4 linked regions of the Homo sapiens genome follow. The protein of the gene in region 4 purifies or fractionates together with the protein of the main gene of each other region. This does not show direct contact. Each region holds a gene or a part of one and is shown on either strand. Other genes may lie near its edges. The genes, in order: PFKL, HSD17B4, HK1 and PYGL.

Region 1 (5,135 bases), on a different chromosome or scaffold from region 4:
GCCTTGCCCTGCATGGTCGGGTGTGGGCGAAGGACAGCCTGAATGGCCCGTGCCTCTGGTCCACCATTGAGCCCCACCCCACCAAGGGGCCGACCTGTCCCAGTTGAGGGGTCTCAGGGTCCACAGGGCAGTGTCAGCCTGTTCTAGGCCAGAGCCCCCAACTCCACCCCAAGGGAACCAGAGGGCGGCATTCCAGGCACCCCCACTCCAGACACACCCCTCCCCACCAGGCACCCCCCCATCCCTCCCAGAGGCGGTCTCGGCCTCCCAGCAGCCTCCCCACCCTCTCCTGCTTCCGGGACCTCCTGTCCACCCTGTGGCTACAGCCACGTTCCGACACATCTTTCCAGCCTAGAACCCACCCCCGGGCCCCGACCGCCCTCAGGGGAAGGCCCTGCTCCCCACTGGCCCAGCTCCTGGCCTCGCCACCCCCACAGCCCTGCCGTCTGGACCTTGCTGGGGCCACTCCCTCACAACCAACCACCTCCCACCGCCCCAGGCTCAGCAGTCCCACCCCAGTAAGCAGCCTCACCAAGCTCCCCACACTGACCACGGGGCTGAGCCTGGGGCGGCGGCAGCCTGAGTGACCCTCTCCGCCTCCTGCCCACTGGGGGCAGGACCACAGGTGCCTCACTGAGGTCAGCCCCGTAGCCCCCCACTCCTTGCGTGTCCCGCCCCCAAGGGGCACCTGCAGCTGCTGATGAACCCATGAGTGATAGATGAGTTGGTCAAGGCTGGTCCCAAAACCCCAGGGGCGCTACCCAGTGCACCAGGACACCTGCGGCCCCCAGCAGGCTGGACGGCACCCACCTCACCCAGCCTCTCACACATGAAGTTCTCCCAGCCGTCCTCGGGTGGAGCCTCGGGGATGAACAGCCAGTCGGCCCCTGAGGCCAGTGCAGATACCAGCGCCAGGTACCTGGAGGAGCGAGCGCCTGCCTGCTCAGGACCCCCACCCAGCCGTTGAGGGGAGCTTCCCTGTACCCAGAGGTCCGACTCTGGGCCACAGCTTCTCTGTCTCTCCCGGCCCCCACCCGGCTCTCTCACACCCATGGCATTAACTGAGCCCTAGAATAAATATGCCACACCTGTCACTGCGGTCCCCAGCAGCACCCGGGCCACCCAGCGGGCCAGGAAGCCCCTCCTCACCCGCAGTGCCGGCCCATCACTTCCAGCACGAAGGTCCTCTGGTGGCTGTGGAGATGGAACAGGAGGATGCATCAGTGCCAGCCACACGGCCCTGCCAGCCCGATTCCCTGCGGGGTGCTCAAGGGACCCAGTGGATGGAGAGGCAGGCAGGGGACAGCCCCTTCTCATGCCCAGGCTCTGAGCTAAAAGATACCTTGGGATCCTTCCAGCCTTTGGGCTGGTTTCGACTGATCTCCTCCCAGGCTGAGGGTCATTTGCCAAGCCCAGGCCTGGCCAGCCCAGGACTTCCTTTGGGGGCGTCACACCCCAGGGCAAGCAGCTGCCCCTCAGAAGGGGCTGCACAAAGGCCCCCCGCGGCCTGGCAGAGTGGGAGTGGAGCCCGCTGTGCGTTCCCCCAGCTGGGGGCTGAGGGCGGCTGGCCTGGATGCTGGGGCTACCAGAGTCCACTGCCCTTGCAGATGGCCGTCACCCTGAGACCACCTCACCACCGTGCGGGGAGGAGGGGCCCTGGGCTGGCCGCCGGCGCCAGCCTCACTCACCTCTGGGCAGTGGTGGTGATGGCATCGATGACCTCCATGATGCGGTGGAGGGCCGAGTCCGTGCCGATGGTCATGTCGGTGCCGCAGAAGTCGTTATCGATGGAGCCCACTAGGCCCGCGATGTTCAGGTGCGAGTAGGTCCGGGCTGTAGTCTCTGAGATCTTACCTGGGCCAGGAGCAGCAGGAGGACCTGGCTGAGGCTCCACTGGCCCCACCACAGGGCCAGAGACCCCTCTCCTGCCACCCCTTCCCCCGCATCCCAGGCGTGCAGCCCGGCAGGGGCCCCGGAGTTCCAGGCTCAGCCTCCTCCTGCCTGGAACCCTGTGGCAGCATGGCTGGATCCGCTGGGGCCAAGTGCAGACGGGGGACCTCTGGGGTGCCTTGCAGAGCGGCCAAGGCCTCACATCAGGGTCCCCCACATGAGGGACATGGAACAGACATGGCTCCGAGAGGCCACTTTCCAAGCAGCAATCTCGGGACTCTGTGTCTTATGTCACCCCAACTTCAACTCTATTTCTGCAGACTGTGACCATGCATGTCCAGAATCTCACTCGGATCAATCACAGAGAAGACTTGTCTACGCAGCGTAGGGTGAGCAACACCGGCCTCCACCAGCCCCATGCACTGCCTGGGTGCCCTCCCTCAGGCTTGAGCACTGACCTCCATCTCTGGGAGACATCTGAGCTCGTGCTGGCAGACACTACTCCTCCCCGGCCAACGGCCAGACAGCCCCTCCTCTGCCTCGGGGCACCCAGGGATCCCTCGTCCCTCTGTCCTGCCCATTCCCACGCCTGGCAGCAGCGGCAAAACAAAACCCCAGGGCCTACAGTGCGCCGGGCACAGACCCACCTTCCGCCACCAGCTCCTCCAGCAGGCTGCCCCACTCGCTGCGGAAGATGTTGGCACCTGTGAGGCTGCCATCCCCGCCGATGACGCACAGGTTGGTGATGCCGTGCTGGACCAGGTTGTAGGCCGCTGCCCGGCGCCCCTCCCTGGTGGTAAAGGCCTTGCAGCGAGCGCTGCCAATGATAGTGCCGCCCTGCACAGAGGAGACCAGAAACTTCAGGAGAGATGGCAGGCGGCAGACAGCCCCTGGGGATCACCAGAGGGACCCCAGGACTGGGCAGCAAGGGGCTGGCAGACCCTGCAGAGTGAGAGGCAGAAGCCCCGGGGTCTCTGGAAACCTGAGGTGGCCCTACCTCCCTGGGCCTCTCTCCTTGGAGAGACAAAGAGGAGGATGATGTCCGTCCGGTCCTGGGCTTGGGAAGCCCCAAGGTAATAGAGTGGAAGGCTTTGGAGACTGGAAAGCACAGTACACACACGCATAGGTTGCCACACACATGTGCGTGCACACGTGCACACACAGGCCCTGTACCAACTCAGGGAACCGGCCAGGGCCTCCAGGGCTCAAGCCTCAGCAGCTCCAGGTGCGCTCACGTGGCCCCTCATAGCCAGCCTCAGCCAGGGCTCCCCCAGGACCCAGCACGGCCACGTCTCCAGGTCCTCCTGGCCCCTGGCAACCCCATGACCCTGCGACCCAACAATTCCATGGCAGCAGATGACAGGGTCGGCCTGAACCTGAGTCCCTGTGCGATGGGGCACGTGTGTGTGTGACTCTGAGTACATATGTCTGTATGTTTCTGTATCTGTGTACCTGTGTGCGCATCTGTGTGTCTACGTGTGTATCTGTGTATTTATGTGTCTGCATGTGTCTATCCATGTGTATCTGTCTCCATGTCTGTGTGCATCTGTGTGTGTCTGTGTGCGCGTCTGTGTGTCTGTGTGCACGTCTGTGTGTCTGTATGTGTGCATGTCTGTGTGTGTCTGTGCACGTGTCTGTGTCTGTGCGCGCCTGTGTGTCCGTGCACGGGTCTGTGTGTGCACGCATCTGTGTGTGTGCACATCTGTGTGTGTGTGCGTCTGTGTGCATGTCTGTGTGTCTGCATGTGTGTGTTTGTGCACGTGTCTGTCTCTGTGTGTGTGTCTGTGTGTGCAGGTCTGTCTCTGTGTGTCTGTCTGCGAGTCCAAGTGCAACATGCATCCGCGTTCCCAGGCCTCACCAGCTGGATGATGTTGGAGACGCTCAGCCAGTTGGCCTGCTTGATGTTCTCACCTCCCTCCACGAGGCCCTCATAGCCCTGAAATCAAGAGTGGGGCAGGCATGAGATAGGGGACCCCATGGCGGCCGGCAGCAAGTGGTCTGGGAGCAGGATTTTCACCCCACCAGCAGAAAGCAGGACCAGGGTGCTGACTGTGAGGCCCCACCATCATCCCAGGGCCTGGGTAACAGGGTCCGGGTGCCCCCTAGGGGGCTCCAGACACCCTCTGCACAGCTGGTGAGTCCGTGTGTCCCGGGGCGTGACTCCTGTGGCAAGTGCTTTGGTGCAGGGGCCTGTCTGAGCTCCCTCACCCCACCCAGATCCACACAGGCAAGTTCAGCGTCCCGAAGGCCCCAGCGGAGCCCGCCATCCAGCTCCTGAGGGTGCATCCTAGGTCTGCCTGTTCTGAACATCCTAGAAATGACACCACAGAGGCTGCTGTGCGTGGCTCCTTCTGTCCCCACTGGAGTCCTCCCAGGCATGCGGCCGGCGGGGTGTGCGGCGCGTGCTCTTGCTGTGTGGCGGCCGTGTGAACAGCCCAGGCTACCATCTGCCCGCCAGAGCGGGAAGCTGAGAACACACACACCTCCCTACAGGCGGGCCCCCACCCGAGGGAGCTCCTGGGTCCAGGGGACCCGAGTGGCCATCGCTCGTAGGGCCGGCAACACCCCAGGCAGGGGCTCCAGGCTCCGCGTCCCGCCACGCCGGCCACACTGGGCCTTCCATCCAGTACCGTGGATCTGCCTCTCATGCGGTTCTACCTGGGATTTCCCAGATGGCACCTGCACAGCCTCCGTGCCACGTGCCCGTTTCCTACTGCACGGCCAGCCCTTTCTTGTTGTTTGAGGGGAGGGACACTCATGACTGCATTTCACTAAGGGTGTGGAGAGGAGAAGGGCGGCCTCCTCCGTGCAGCCCCGGTCCCTCCATGGCATCAGCAGCCTTCTCCAGGCCGTGAGGTGAGGCAGTGGAGCAGCCATTCCTCGGCCAGGGCGGATGCCAGCTCAGCTGTGGGCTTCTGCTCCTCCCTCCGCCTTCTCCCCAACCAGGTGTCAGGGCCCTGGGGGCCAGGAGGGCAAGTGCCTCAAGCAGGCAGGGGGTCAAGGGATAGTGCGCGCTGCGGGGCGCATGAACATCCCCACTCTGGCCATGGCGGGCTTCTAGCCTGACAGCCTCCCTTCCCCACCAGCTGGGCTGGGGGACAGGTGCCCCTGCCCCATCTCAGGGGCTGATCTGAGGGACCACAGAGCTACTTCCTCCGGCTCAGGCCAGGCCAGCCTGGCCCCCTCTGGTTGTACCAGCCCTGAGCTAGGAACAAGGAAAACAGGAAAATGATCCCAAACCCACA
Region 2 (5,135 bases), on a different chromosome or scaffold from region 4:
GCAGGAGAATGGCGTGAACCCGGGAGGTGGAGCTTGCAGTGAGCCGAGATAGCGCCACTGCAGTCCGGCCTGGGCAAAAGAGGGAGACTCCCTCTCAAAAAAAAAAAAAAAGAGATGTGGGGCCTTTAAAAAGTGATTGAATTGTGAGGGCTCTGCCCTTATAAATGCATTAATCTATTCATGGACTAATAGATTAATCGGGTAATGAATTAACAGGTTATCATGGGAGTGAGACTAGTGGCTTTATAAGAAGAGGAAAAGAGACGAGAGCCAGCACACTCAGCCTCTTGCCCTGTGACGCCCTGTGCCATCTCGGGACTCTACAGAGTCCCCACCAGAAAGGAGGCCCTCCTCACCAGATGTAGCCCCTCAGCACTGGCCTACTCAGCCTACATAACTATAAGAAATAAATTCCTTTTTTAAAATACATTACCCGGTTTTAAGTGTTCTGTTATAAGCAACAGAAAACAGACTAAGACACAGAGCTTTTCCTTTAAGCATCTAGGAGAAACATGTATAAGGGGGCTAGGATGTGCCTTGAGTCAACAAGACCTCAGTCAACAAGACCTTCACTTTGATATATCCAGTTCTTGAGCAGAGTGAGTCATATATGGTAAGCAGGGACTGATATTGGTTCCTTTCTCTTCCCTTTCCGAAAGTCTTTAATTTTTTGTCATTTACCCTCACCATAATCCCGGAAGTTAGCTAAGACAGCTATAAACAGAGAGGTCATATAATTAGGCAGCAGAGCCAGGATTTAAAACTTGGCCTGACTTCAAAGGCAATGCACCTTGCCCACTACAGTTCACCTTCCAGCTGTCAAGATCCCATAGGGGTTAAAAACAATGGCTCTAGCATCAGGCCACAGGAAGTTAAGACTCAGCTTTACCATTATTATGTAACTGTAGCACGGAAAAGTCATGTCAATCTTACTTAAAAAGATTGTAATTCAATTTACCCAAAGGTGTTACTTCAGTTCAAGAGTAGAACTCCCTTTCTTTTACTAAGGAGTTCTTTTTGCTCCTTTTTGTCAGTCCTTCTTGTGTTTATGTCCTCAAAATAAAACTTACTATTCAGAGAACTAGATATAGCTCACCTACTGAGGAAACCTCAAAACTACTGAATTCCCAATAACCTACTTAAGAAATGCACAAGCATTTCCTGAAAGATGTAATTTACACAAAAGCAAATGTCCCTTTTTACAGTATCAGCCTAAGGCTTAGCAGTTCTTATACCAAATTTAAATATCCCATAAGCTTTATATTATGGAATATAAAACATAGCAATCATATTAACACAAAATTGGAGACTATCTTAAATGATGCCCCTAACTTTTGGCTTAGCCAAATGATTTCCTTTGGCCAATGAAATGTCGGTAGAAGTGACATGCCACTTCTAAAAAGAGGTCAGGAGTTCAAGACCAGCCTGGCCAAGATGGTGAAACCGCATCTTTACTTAAAAAAAAAAAAAAAAAAATTAGCCAGGCTTGGTGGCAGGCGCCTGTAATCCCAGCTACTTGGGAGGCTAAGGCAGAGAACTGCTTGAACCCGGAGGCAGACGTTGCAGTGAGCCAAGATCACGCCACTGCACTCCAGCCTGGGCAACAGAGCAAGACTCCATCTCAAAAAAAAAAAAAAAATTAGTGTGTGTGATGCAACTTGGAAACACGGTGTCTATGGTGTACATGTAAAAAGGCTAACAGGTAAGACACAGACTTTAAAAAGGAATAGAAAACATCAGTCAAAATTTCTGCACTTCCACATGGATTGAATTCTCCTCCTTAATACTAAACTAAATCTGGCTCTTCATTCAAGTTTATGAAATATTTTTCTTCTATATTCTTGGACTTTTATCAGGACTTGACACAATTATCATCTCTACTATAATAATGCAATGACAAAATAGATAGACACAGCATCTCTGTTTAATTTTTTCTTAGAATTCAAATACTCCTAATCTGAATTTAAGAAATTGAGAGGGAACAGGGAAATAAAGGAAAATTGATGCACAGGAACACACTGTTATAAAATTTTTTACAAAACAGGTTTATAAACTAAGTTTATATCTTAGTCAAGAACAAAAAAAAGAAATGTATTCAACCAATCTCAAACACACCCTTCCCCCAGAAAAGTATATCAACAATAAAAGAACCAATGAACAAAGTACCTTCTTTGCACAAAGAAATATTCTAGGTCCTTTAGTAGATACAAAAGATAAAACAAGATCCTTGCCGTTATGGAATTGAGCAGAAAAGATGTAAATAAATAAAAACATATAAGGTAAAAATATTAAGAACTAAATAGCAACATAAAAAGGAAGGAAAATTAAAAATAGTAACAGCATGTGTCTTTAGGCCTCAACATGAGCTATTCTTGGGAAAATCTGACAAAGTGGGCCTGAAATATATACTCGCTGTCCAAATAATACAATGTCAAAATTCATCCCTGCCAGAAGAAGCAGATTGGATTAGCAGACAGTGCCTATGATCTTAAACAAGGAACATCCAAAGCGTCAGTGTTCCTTCCATAAAGATAAGCTACACATCCACAATGAAGGAGAAAAGTGTATCAAGTGCTCTGCTTAGGGCTTGTTTAGAAAACCTGGTTGCTTGCTTACTCTTTTGTTATATGTGTCTCCCTGAACAAACTGATGAAAATTCGTCTCTCTGTATTGCCTCGTTAAGATGTCAGAAAGCTGAAATTAGAAGATCATTGTGGGCCCACAGTTTTATCCCAGGAAATATGCTAATAAGTACTGGGTCCTACATATCCCCCTGCACTTAGCACCCATTTAGTTATTCCCCAGAAAGGCTCAGTTGTGGACAAATTCGTTTCTGTGTCCACACCAACTGTCAAGCACATTAGATCAGTCCAAACCATGCAGATTACTAAAACCTCCCACCTTTAGGATTCTTCAATACAGTATCTTCCATCTGACCCCTCCACAAACAAAAACTCATGTAACTGCCCCCTCAATTAAATTTTTTTAAAACACTTCCAGCTGAAAAGTTTTGATGAAAGAGTCAAGAAACCCATACTTTAGATTCCTTGACTCCAAACTTCCAGTTCTCAAAATTCAGTTATTTCTTACTTTTATCAATACACTTACAGGGGCTCTCTTTTGATCTCGCACCAGTAGACAAACCTCCTGTCTCAAAAAATTACAGCCTACAATTTACTGAAGTCAAGAATTTCCTTTTATACAATAAATGCTTGTCCCCACCCTTTTCTGTGAGAAACAGGGTTTTTTTTGCGCCATCACCCAGATTGGAGTGCAGTGGTATAATCATAGTTCTCTGCAGGCTCGAACTCCTGGTCTCAAGCGATCCTCCCACCTCAGCCTCCTGAGTCACTGGAGTTATAGCCACAAGCCAGCATGCCTACCCCCTAGCCCTTCGTTATCAATTCTGTTAAGCTGGGAATTCTGTGAAACTGGTTCCCTTTTAAAAGTAATTTAGACAGACAGCCTTAGTCGGGGTAAAAACCTTCTGGCAAAAGTAAAAATTAATAATAAAATTCAACCTTGACAAATTATTTGATAGAAAGACAAAGATAGCTTGTAAAGATTGTATTTCAGTTATCAGCTACAGATTAAAAAGAAAAACACACCAACTTACCAACAACTAACGCTCCTCTTTCTGCAAAAGCCAGGGCATAGGCTCGGCCCAATCCTAATCAAAAACAAAATAATCAGAAAGTTGAAGAAATGTCAGCATAATTTTTTTGGTCCGCTCAACTCAATCCCCATTTAAAGAAATTGGTGAACAATTAATTACATTTTAATGATACTCTCAACCTATCCTATCACTGACATTCTCAACCTATCCACTCTCTTCTGCTTGCAGAGGCTGGAAAGCTTAAAACTGTATTTTTCCACCTATTCTACTACCACTTCCTACCATTCTACTTAGCTGCTAGGATGCTGTGAATTGGGTTCCACCATCTGATGCATCTGCATAAAACTTAGAAGGTGTAAGTGAGACAGAGACCACCTTACTGGGAGTTCTGGCTGTTGTTGTTAAGAAGCTAGTTTTCTTGAAAGTTCCTAGGTATTCAGAAACTGACTATAGCAGCGACTTCTTCATTCAGCTCCCTAATCCCTGGATGGCAGCTTCCATACTTCAGGTCCCTAGTGCCAGTGCTACTTGGGCTGTGGCACAGCTCCAATGACAGCCTCAGAGGTATTGCCTCCTCTAATGGATCAATTTCCTATTGTTTCAGGAGTTATTCTAAGAAGACCTGCCTAAAACCTAATTGCCTGTATTGAATCCTTTGCTGCTTAAAATATCTAGTGGTTTCTGTATCCCACAGTGAACCCTGACTACACAGTCATCAAATACAGAAAATATTTAATTCTGACTCAAAGCTACAAGGTGTAAATTTATATATCCAAAAAGAAATTATATATATATATATAGAGAGAGAGAGAGAGAGAGAGAGAGAAAGTTTTGCTTTTTTTCTTTTTTTTTGAGATCCAGTCTCACTCTGTCGCCCAGGCTGGAGTGCAGTGGCATGATCTCGGCTCACTGCAACCTCCACCTCCCAGGTTCAGGTGATTGTCCTGCCTCAGCCTCGCGAGTAGCTGGGACTACAGGCGCCCGCCACCACGCCCAGCTAATTTTTGTATTTTTAGTAGAGATGGGGTTTCACCATGTTGGCCAGGATGGTCTCGATCTCTTGACCTCGTGATCAGCCCACCTCGGCCTCCCAAAGTGCTGGGATTACAGGCGTGAGCCACCACCATCCCCAGCCAAGAGAGAAGTTTTATAGGCATAGAGTATCTCGGGAAAAACACATTAGAAACTGGCAATTAGTGGTTACCTCTGGAGGACAGAACTATGTGGCTAGCAATAAGGGGTGGAAGGCTTACTTCTGGATTGTTTTTCTGTATTGTTTACATTTTTTAATATGTGTATATTTTTTACATTTTAAGTTAATTGATAAATTTCATTGACAAATGAATAAATTTAATTAACAATTTATATTTAGTATAAATTAATCAATAAGTATACAAATAACAAACTGAGATACATAAATTATTAGCCCCTTCCAAAAACAACCCAAGGCCAGGAGTAGTGACACACATCTGTAATCCCAACACTTTATGAGACAGAGGTGGGCGGATCATTTGAGGTC
Region 3 (3,500 bases), on a different chromosome or scaffold from region 4:
CTCGGCCTCCCAAAGTGCTGGGATTACAGGCATGAGCCACCACACCAGGCCAAGAAAAGTAATTTATAATAAAATTATAAGATTTCACTATGCAAATGCCCAGGGTCTGCTATTCCAGAGGAAAAAAAATCCTCAAAAATGGCCAAAATGTCCCCTAGGGTCCCTACCACCCCCATCACAATCCACCAGCCAGGCGACCTCTGAAGGGTGGGCGCTGGCAGGGAAGACACTGCCCACTCACCTCTCGATCTGAGAGAGAAACTTGGTCTCAAAGATGCCCCGGGTCTTCAGCGTCTCAGAGATCTGCCCTCGGAAGAGGAATCCCTTCTTGGTGAAGTCGATTAAGATGTTGCGGACGATTTCACCCAGGTACATACCACTGATCATCTTCTCATACCTGAGACAGGAGGAGGGGCCTGGGGTGTCTATGGGAAGTGGCCAGGAGAACTGTCACCCCTCGGTCTCACGGTCACTCCGCGTCTCCTACTGCCCCTCAAGCGCATCATCAACAGCCATGTGCCCAGCCCTGTGCTCTGCCGCAGAGGCAGAGTGGGAGGACCAGGAAGGACCAGGGAGTCCTCCACTCTCTCACATCAGAAACAAAACCACCAGCATTCATGTCTACCTGCTAGACTGGTCTCCCTCCTCAGCTGCCTGATAGCTCTCAGCCCCAAGGTCACTTCCCCGAGAGCCTGTCCTCCTCCTGATCCTGGGTTCTACCTGCCTGTTTCAGGTTCCCACACACCTCACCATTCTCCTCCTTCACAACACACCTGAGCTCACTGCCTCCCACCACCACTGCTGTAGTGACAGCCCCAAGAGGACAGGGCATGTGTGTCTTTTTCAGCTCTGAGTCCCCAGGGCACAGCACAGCATAGCATAGCACTGGGCCCTCAGGAAAGTGCCCAAAAACTATCTGCAGAATAAGCAAATGACTGGGCTAAGTCTTAAAGGAACAAGAAGACAAAAAAAAGGAAAGTTTCTAGATTTTTCTAAAGGTTTTGCAAATACCCAGAGTACTGGTCAAGCCCACAGCAGAGTGATGAGGCCACACAGGAGGGAGAATTCAGTGACCACAACACACTGGAGGTCAACCTGTTCTTGGGACTTCAAATTTCCTGCCCTCTCCATGCTCAAGGATCTCAAGAAATAACAAAGGATTGATTCATTTCCATGGCACATGCCCAAGCCCAGTGTCCCAAAGCTGAGAAGAGTCCCCTGGAATTTGGAACTCCAGGATTCCTCCTATTTCATGTGGTCCATGGAAGAACATGAAACAGAATGGAATCACAGAGGGGTGGGCCACCACTACGAAGTCCCACCCAGTCCTTCTCATTCCACCACAAAGACCACCCCAGTTTGGTGCTGACATGTCCTTAACCCCTTCCAACACTTGCTGATCCCCCCGCTTTTTAACCAAGGGGGTCTTACTATTATTGTTGTTATTATTGTTATTAATTTTTAGTAGAGACAGGGTCTCAACCCTATGTTGCCCAGGGTGGTCTCAACCTCCTGAGCTCAAGCAATCCTCCCACCTTGGCCTCCCAAAGTGCTGGGATTACTTTGATGATAGACTGCACTCAGCCCAAAGGGGGTCTTAGTTCAGGTCATTTGGTAGGCGACAGCATCAGCTAGACTTGAATAGCACGGTTCTTCACTATACTCATTTTTTAGTTACCATCTCTTTATGGTACTATTGGTTCTTCCTCTTTTTCCTCCTTCATTAAATGTCAGTAAAGACCTTAAAGGCCACTGGGCACGGTGGCTCACGCCTATAATCCCAGCACTTTGGGAGGCTGAGGCGGGCCAATCACCTGAGGTCAGGAGTTCGAGACCAGTCTGACCAACATGGTGAAACCTGGTCTCTACCAAAAATACAAAAACTAGCTGGGCGTGGTGCCGTGCACCTGTAATCCCAGCTACCTGGGAGGCTGAGGCAGGAGAATCACTTGAACCCAGGAGGTGGCAGTGAGCTGAGCTCGCACCACTGCACTCTAGCCTGGACAACAGGGTGAGACTCTGTCTCAAAAAAAAAAGAAAAGAAAAGAAAAGAAAAAGACTATAAGGGCTGGTTGCGGTGGCTCACACCTGTAATCCCAGCACTTTAGGAGACCTAGACAGGCGGATCACCTGAGGTCGGGAGTTCAAGACCAGCCTGACCAACATGGAGAAACCCCGTCTCTACTAAAAATACAAAATTAGCTGGGCATGGTTGTGTATGCCTGTAATCCCAGCTACTGGGGAGGCTGAGGCAGGAGAACTGCTTGAACCCGGGAGGTGGAGGTTGTGGTGAGCCGAGATCACGCCATTGCACTCCAGCCTGGGCAACAAGAGCAAAACTCCACCTCAAACAAAAAGAAAAACAAAAAACTGTAAGCTGATTCGAAGAAAAGCACTAAGTAAATAACAGCATGGGTGGTATTTAGAAAAGGCAAAAACCTTGAGGGGGCTAGGGAGTGACTCATGCTGGGTGCTGCTCCAGCCCTTCTTTCTGCTCCTAGGGAGACAACTTGGACCAACTCATCCTGGCCGTGGCAGAGGATGGCCTGATTCCTGGGGGCTTGAGACAAAGGGCAGACACTGCCATTTCAGACATGGTACCTGAGACCTGAGCTGCAAAGCTCCACAAGGCCACTAGGTGGTGCAGGAGGCTCACGGAGGAAAGGACGATTGCGACAGGGCCTCTGCTTCACACCAACCTGCCGCCCAGCCACCCTCACCCCACCCCCTTGTTATTCTGATGGGAAAGGAACACAGCAAGGGGACCGGAAGGCCAGAATCCTCCAGGCTAAAAAACAGTCACAGGCAGCCCCTAGACAGGCATCAACCCTGGGCCATCTTGTACCATGTTGGGGGTCTGTCCTCCCTGGTTCTCTGCTGTCCAAAAGACAAAGGTCAGGAGTGAGCCAGGGGGTCCAGTCTTGAAACCTCTGTTCAGACCTCTCCTCCTAGAAACTTCTTCCACTGCAAGTGGCAGAATGCAGCCAAGTGCTGCCCCCACCCTGACTGTGAGTGTCCTCTCCACCAGGCGGGGTTACCTTTGTTTCCCAGCATTTAGGGAATATTCGTCCACCAGTCTGTCGTAGTGTGTCCTGATATCATCCAGACACCCGTTGTCCCCAAAGGCCCCCCACTCCATGTTGATGCACATCTGCCCCTGGTCCCCCTCCACCATCTCCACGTTCTTCATCTCCTCCATGTAGCAGGCATTGCTGCCGGTCCCTGGAACACACGAGGGGGCAATGAGGAGCGGTGGCCTTGCATTTGGGGGTCTTGCAACTGGGCCTGGGGTCTGGGGCCTGAGGTTCCACAGGCAGGGGGCACGTTTTTTGTGATGAACAAAGTAATAGTTTTTCTTTCCCAATTTTGAAATGGAAAAATTTGAAATGTAAATGGAGAGTCTGAGCCACATCACCCAGAGGGCACCTGCTTAGCTGACTTTCAACCAAGAGCCAATGTGTTCACCCGTCCAGGCAGGGTTATGTTTATTTTAATAGAAG
Region 4 (5,135 bases):
TCTCTGCATAAAGGGAGAAGAGCCAGGTTCCTAGGGATGCAAAAGAAGATACATCTAATCCACAAATAAGCTCTCACAGTAAAGCAGAAAAGTGGTCCTGACCTTTGTAGTCAAAGGAAGTGCTTCAGGCAGCTCTAATTTGCGTGCAAATCAGCCTGAAAGGTCAGAGGCTAGATGTCTAGCCCCAGGCACACCTCAATTACGTGTGGCTTATTTCCCTGCAGGAAAAGTGGAAGGAAGGAGGTGAGAAGTAGAAGGAATGCAGACAATCCAGTCTCCTCAGGTTGCCAAAGAGGAGTCCTGGAGGGACACTCTGAATGTTATGGATCAAGAGAGAGAAGTTCAGCCTGGGCAGCATAGGGAGACCCCATACATACAAAAATTTTAAAAAATTAGCTGGACATGGTGGTGCTCGCTTGTAATTGCAGCTACTTGGGAGGCTGGGGCAGGAAGATTGCTTGAGCCTAGGAGGTCAAGGCTGCAGAGAGCTGTAATCGCACCACTGCACTCCAGCCTGGGTGACAGAGAGAGACCCTGTACCAAAAAAGAGAAAGAAAAAAAGAGAAATTTCAATATATTTTATAAAGTAGAAGAAATAAAAATAAAACTGTAACAAAAATTGGAAGGAATAAAAGGAAGAAGAGAAATGTAGTATCAATGTTTGTCGCAGTCAATAGATACTCTTCAAAGTTTATAGCTCGAGAAAGAAATACAAGCATATAAAATGGACAAAAGTGGTTGCCTGAGTCAAGGGGAAAGAGTGTGATCTGCCTTCTAGACCATTTGAATGTTTATCTTAATGTGCATGTATTACTTTAATTATCAAAACAGCCCAACTTAATAAATGCTTCAATACAATACAAGCAGATCTAGACAGACAAAATTACTAATTTTAACTTACCTTTCTTGCAGTCATTCCAGCCACAGATCTGTCAGAGCAGATTTCCACTGCAGGCACCGAAGCCTCGGGGACAGGCAATATGAAGTTCATGCTAAATGGGGCCCTAACTATCGGGACCATGGATGGGGCCAATGTGGAAATGGCAGAAGAAGCTGGGGAAGAGAACCTGTTCATCTTTGGCATGAGGATAGATGATGTGGCTGCTTTGGACAAGAAAGGGTAAGAGAATAGCTTCTCTTTGCTAGGCAGGACTGCCCCTCCCCCCTAGAAGGTATGTGACCTCAGAGGGCTTCCTGCCCACACCGATATCCCACTGAAATTGGATCACATAAGAGGTGGCAGCAGAACATCTCCCACGATGAGGCAGGAGAGCCTCCTGGCCACAGATTAATATTATTAAACCCAGCAAATAAAAGTACAGACACATGGAGGAGTTGCTATTTGTTATCGGCCATTGCAGAGCTGGCCTCAAAGAGCTATTTTTCCTCCGTATGTATGATTTTTACTTTGATCAAAAGATGAACCAGTTTCTAGTTGGAAGGGTTGCCTATAATTTAAATCATGATCTAGTGCTCCTTTAAGATATCAAAGAAATGCACTAAAATGTGATAGAGAATAGATACGGGTGTACAGAAGTAATTGGAAACATTTATTTTCACTTCATATCTGGATGGGTTTATTAACCTGAGTTCAAGCACAAAATAAAGAGTACTGCCCAAAGAAGTAACATTTGGAGGATGTTGAATATACTTCCTGACCCTTGGAAGTCAGTTTCACTCAGTAGCAACAACTTTTGAGAATCTGTGGATCCAAAAAGCAACTGATCTACTTAATACAATGTTCATTTAAAGCCATAAAGTCTGCTTTGAAATGGACCTTGCTGTATTCTACCACATCAGACTCTTGATGTTTGACTAGAGTTTTCATTATCTATTGTTCTTAGTGTCTTTGGTTATAAGGAATCAAATTTACAGGAAGAAAAACTTACAGATCTAGTTAAAAGTTATATATACTCATGGTGAAATCTATAATGAAGTCTTTGAATGCTAGTATTTCTGAATGTATTTTTTCACAGTGAATGCAGTGTCTAGTGTGTTGTTAATCACACAACACAATAACAGAGCCTTTTTTTATCACCCACCCACCCCTACCCCACAGGTACGAGGCAAAAGAATACTATGAGGCACTTCCAGAGCTGAAGCTGGTCATTGATCAAATTGACAATGGCTTTTTTTCTCCCAAGCAGCCTGACCTCTTCAAAGATATCATCAACATGCTATTTTATCATGACAGGTGAGTTCCCATAAGAAGATGGTGCTATTTGGATCATGAAAGGGGGACAAGAAAATCTTAAACCAACCAACTCTAAAACCAACAAGAAAATCTTAAACCAATCTTAAACCAACTTAAACCCACTCATGTAGATTAGCATAGATTAGCGTGATCTGCTCAGGTAGTTTAGGCTTGGGGAAAAAGTTAGATATTCTCCACCAGCGATGCCAGTAAGGTTTAAGAATAACACACACAAATCTGGTTCTCTTTTTCTCCTTCCACTGATATTCCCAACTTCCAAATGCATCCCAGTGATGACATTCTCACATGTGAGAACCATAAGAAGGTTGAGGGCTGGTTAAAAGTCTTACAAACAGAAATATGAATTTGGTAAACCAGCCATGCCTGATATTAAGCAAAAGATGATTTTACATGGAATTTTAGCATATATCTATTAATGAAGATTTTGACTGTTTTTTTCCTCTTCCACTCACAAAATAAAAGGTTTAAAGTCTTTGCAGACTACGAAGCCTATGTCAAGTGTCAAGATAAAGTGAGTCAGCTGTACATGGTGAGTAAATTGCCAAGATTTATAAAGAAAACCAGTTTACTATGATTCATTAAAATGTGGGTTTTTTAATTAAATGCAAATATCAGATCCCCATGTAATATCAGATCCCCATTAAGCAATCAAAAAAAAAACAACAAAAACAAACAAACAACCACAACAAAAAAAAAAACCTTGTCTTTTCCCAAGTTCAGGCCAAGGTTGAGATTTGACATTTCAGCAGGAGTTGTAATTTTTTTTTTTTTTTTTTTTTGAGACAGATCTCGCTCTGTCACTCAGACGGGAGTGCAGCGGCGTGATCCTGACTCACTGCAACCTTCACCTCTCGGCCTCCCAAGTAGCTGGGATTATAGGCACGTGCCACCACACTTAGCTAATTTTTGTATTTTTAGTGGAGATGGAGTTTCACCGTGTTGGCCAGGCTGGTCTAGAACTCCTGACCTCAGGTGATTCACCCGCCTCTGCCTCCCAAAGTGCTGGGATTACAGGTGTGAGCCACCATGCCCAGCCAGTTGTAAATTTTTTAATATCCAAGTTTTTTAAAAGTCACAAATAATTCAATATTTTTTGAGCACCCACTCTGTAGCAGACATGTCCTGGAAGCTAAGGAAATAAAGCCTCAGAGGGGCATTAGGCGTCTTTTTTATGCCGGGCACTGTGCTGGCACTGAGAACACAGCATGAGCAAAGTTGAGGTCTCTCCCTCCCTCCCCTCCCTCAAGGAGCCTGTTTGAACATCGAGATTCTTAACCAGAGGTACACATCAGAATCACCAAGGTAGCTTCATCATAGTACAGATGCCAGCCCCCGCACTGAGAGATTCTTTCCCAGTAATGGGTGGGGTCATCAGTATTTGAGAAACCTGCCATGATGATTCTAAGGCTAAAACATGGTTTTTTAAGATAAGGACTGACCCCTATTCTCTGAAAATTGCAAAATAGGTACCTCTTCTGGACTTCTCATGGAGGGGGCTGTATCAATAGAATATAAATTCGTAGAAAGAGAAAGGTGTTCATAATTGAATTTTTAAAAAAAGAAAGAAGAATAAGGAAGACAATACTATACTGAGGGGAAAAAAAAGGGATGGGTAGAGCCATGTGAATAAGCCTCTGCATGCAAAGTTATACGCTTTATCAAACAACTCTCTAGCTGTGTTTTGTAAATATGTAAAAAGGTTGATCATCTCTGATAGGAGAGACTTTTAGTGAATTTCAGATACCCTAGAGGAATGGATACTGGAGGGGGCTAGCTCTGTGCCAAGACTCCAGGGTGGGTTTTACTAACATTTCTTTCTACTCCTTTCCCAAGGCAGATAAAAGGGTAGTTCCTACTGTCATCCTAAATGTCCCACTGGGATTTTAAAAAGGATCATTCAACGCCTGTGCTGCTTTACAGCCCTTATCTTCTAATAGAATAATGGCCAGTCCCCCAGTGGCATATAGACCAGAATAAGTTCAAGTTAATGGCTACAAACAAGCAGGGCAGTGCTAGAGCTAAGCTCAGGGGCTCACTACCTGCTTCCTGTACATTGGAGAGAAAAGCCATATACAGGCCGCAAGAATGCAAAGACACAGGGAAGAGAACGGCCACCTCAAGACAGATCAATAAAACAGCACAGGAAAGAAAAATATGAACAAGGGCAAGGACAAATGTGAATGTCTCCTCTGTTAAAATTATGGCCCAAATCCAAACGATGCTCATCTAGAAACCCAGCATTTGATTCGGTCTTTCTTGTTCATTAGTGCTAATTGCAGCTTTTTACTCTTAACAATGATTGTATTGTTGAGACTTAGTAAACATGACCCATATGACTGGGAAGTCTATTCATTATCCATTTAAATAGTTAAAGAAAATGAAGAGAGAAAGCTTTTATCCTCCTCTTATTACAGGAAGCTTCCAAAGTCTGAATAAACAAATTTCAGATGCTGTTTTGCTGTACCTTAAGGAATGATGGTAGTTTTAGTCTTTCTCGTAAGCATTTATAATGCATTGATAACATTTTTGAATAATGTTCTGTTCACTTCCAATACACTTTTAGAGTTCCTTACAAAATTAAGAGGCTATAAAATAAATTCCTTCTTATCATATTCTTTTATATAAAAATTATGAGATTTTGATATATTTTTATTAAGGATAAAGACTCAATTGACCCTGTTTTGAAGCCCCAGTGGAGTGTTTGGGACTCAGTGTAAGCCTACTAGGGTGCGTATCTTCAGAAAGAACAAGAAAAGCTAAGTAGGTCAATAAAGCCTCTCATTGAATTGTTTGCCTGCATTATAGCTAACATTTTAGAGTAGTGTTTTTCAAACTCTATGAGCCATAGGATAAGTCTCTTGACATGGCATTTAGCAGACAATGGATTCCTCCCCTATAGTTTAAAGGGAAGCATCTTCAT

What was found.
Region 1: the proteins of PYGL (region 4) and PFKL fractionate together in Homo sapiens (co-fractionation; one large-scale study listed by BioGRID). This does not show direct contact.
Region 2: the proteins of PYGL (region 4) and HSD17B4 fractionate together in Homo sapiens (co-fractionation; one large-scale study listed by BioGRID). This does not show direct contact.
Region 3: the proteins of PYGL (region 4) and HK1 fractionate together in Homo sapiens (co-fractionation; one large-scale study listed by BioGRID). This does not show direct contact.

Annotation. Positions count from the first base shown.
Region 1 is NC_000021.9:44,309,697-44,314,831, reverse strand, and holds part of PFKL (ATP-dependent 6-phosphofructokinase, liver type), read right to left. Parts: intron 3,827-5,135; coding exon 3,749-3,826; intron 2,728-3,748; coding exon 2,538-2,727; intron 1,855-2,537; coding exon 1,689-1,854; intron 1,195-1,688; coding exon 1,150-1,194; intron 920-1,149; coding exon 811-919; intron 188-810; exon of another isoform or gene 1-187. UniProt on the Homo sapiens protein: Catalyzes the phosphorylation of D-fructose 6-phosphate to fructose 1,6-bisphosphate by ATP, the first committing step of glycolysis.
Region 2 is NC_000005.10:119,454,850-119,459,984, reverse strand, and holds part of HSD17B4 (peroxisomal multifunctional enzyme type 2), read right to left. Parts: intron 3,671-5,135; coding exon 3,617-3,670; intron 1-3,616. UniProt on the Homo sapiens protein: Bifunctional enzyme acting on the peroxisomal fatty acid beta-oxidation pathway.
Region 3 is NC_000010.11:69,391,847-69,395,346, reverse strand, and holds part of HK1 (hexokinase-1), read right to left. Parts: intron 3,223-3,500; coding exon 3,039-3,222; intron 398-3,038; coding exon 242-397; intron 1-241. UniProt on the Homo sapiens protein: Catalyzes the phosphorylation of various hexoses, such as D-glucose, D-glucosamine, D-fructose, D-mannose and 2-deoxy-D-glucose, to hexose 6-phosphate (D-glucose 6-phosphate, D-glucosamine 6-phosphate, D-fructose 6-phosphate, D-mannose 6-phosphate and 2-deoxy-D-glucose 6-phosphate, respectively).
Region 4 is NC_000014.9:50,905,880-50,911,014, reverse strand, and holds part of PYGL (glycogen phosphorylase, liver form), read left to right. Parts: intron 1-912; coding exon 913-1,120; intron 1,121-2,059; coding exon 2,060-2,194; intron 2,195-2,677; coding exon 2,678-2,744; intron 2,745-5,135. UniProt on the Homo sapiens protein: Allosteric enzyme that catalyzes the rate-limiting step in glycogen catabolism, the phosphorolytic cleavage of glycogen to produce glucose-1-phosphate, and plays a central role in maintaining cellular and organismal glucose homeostasis.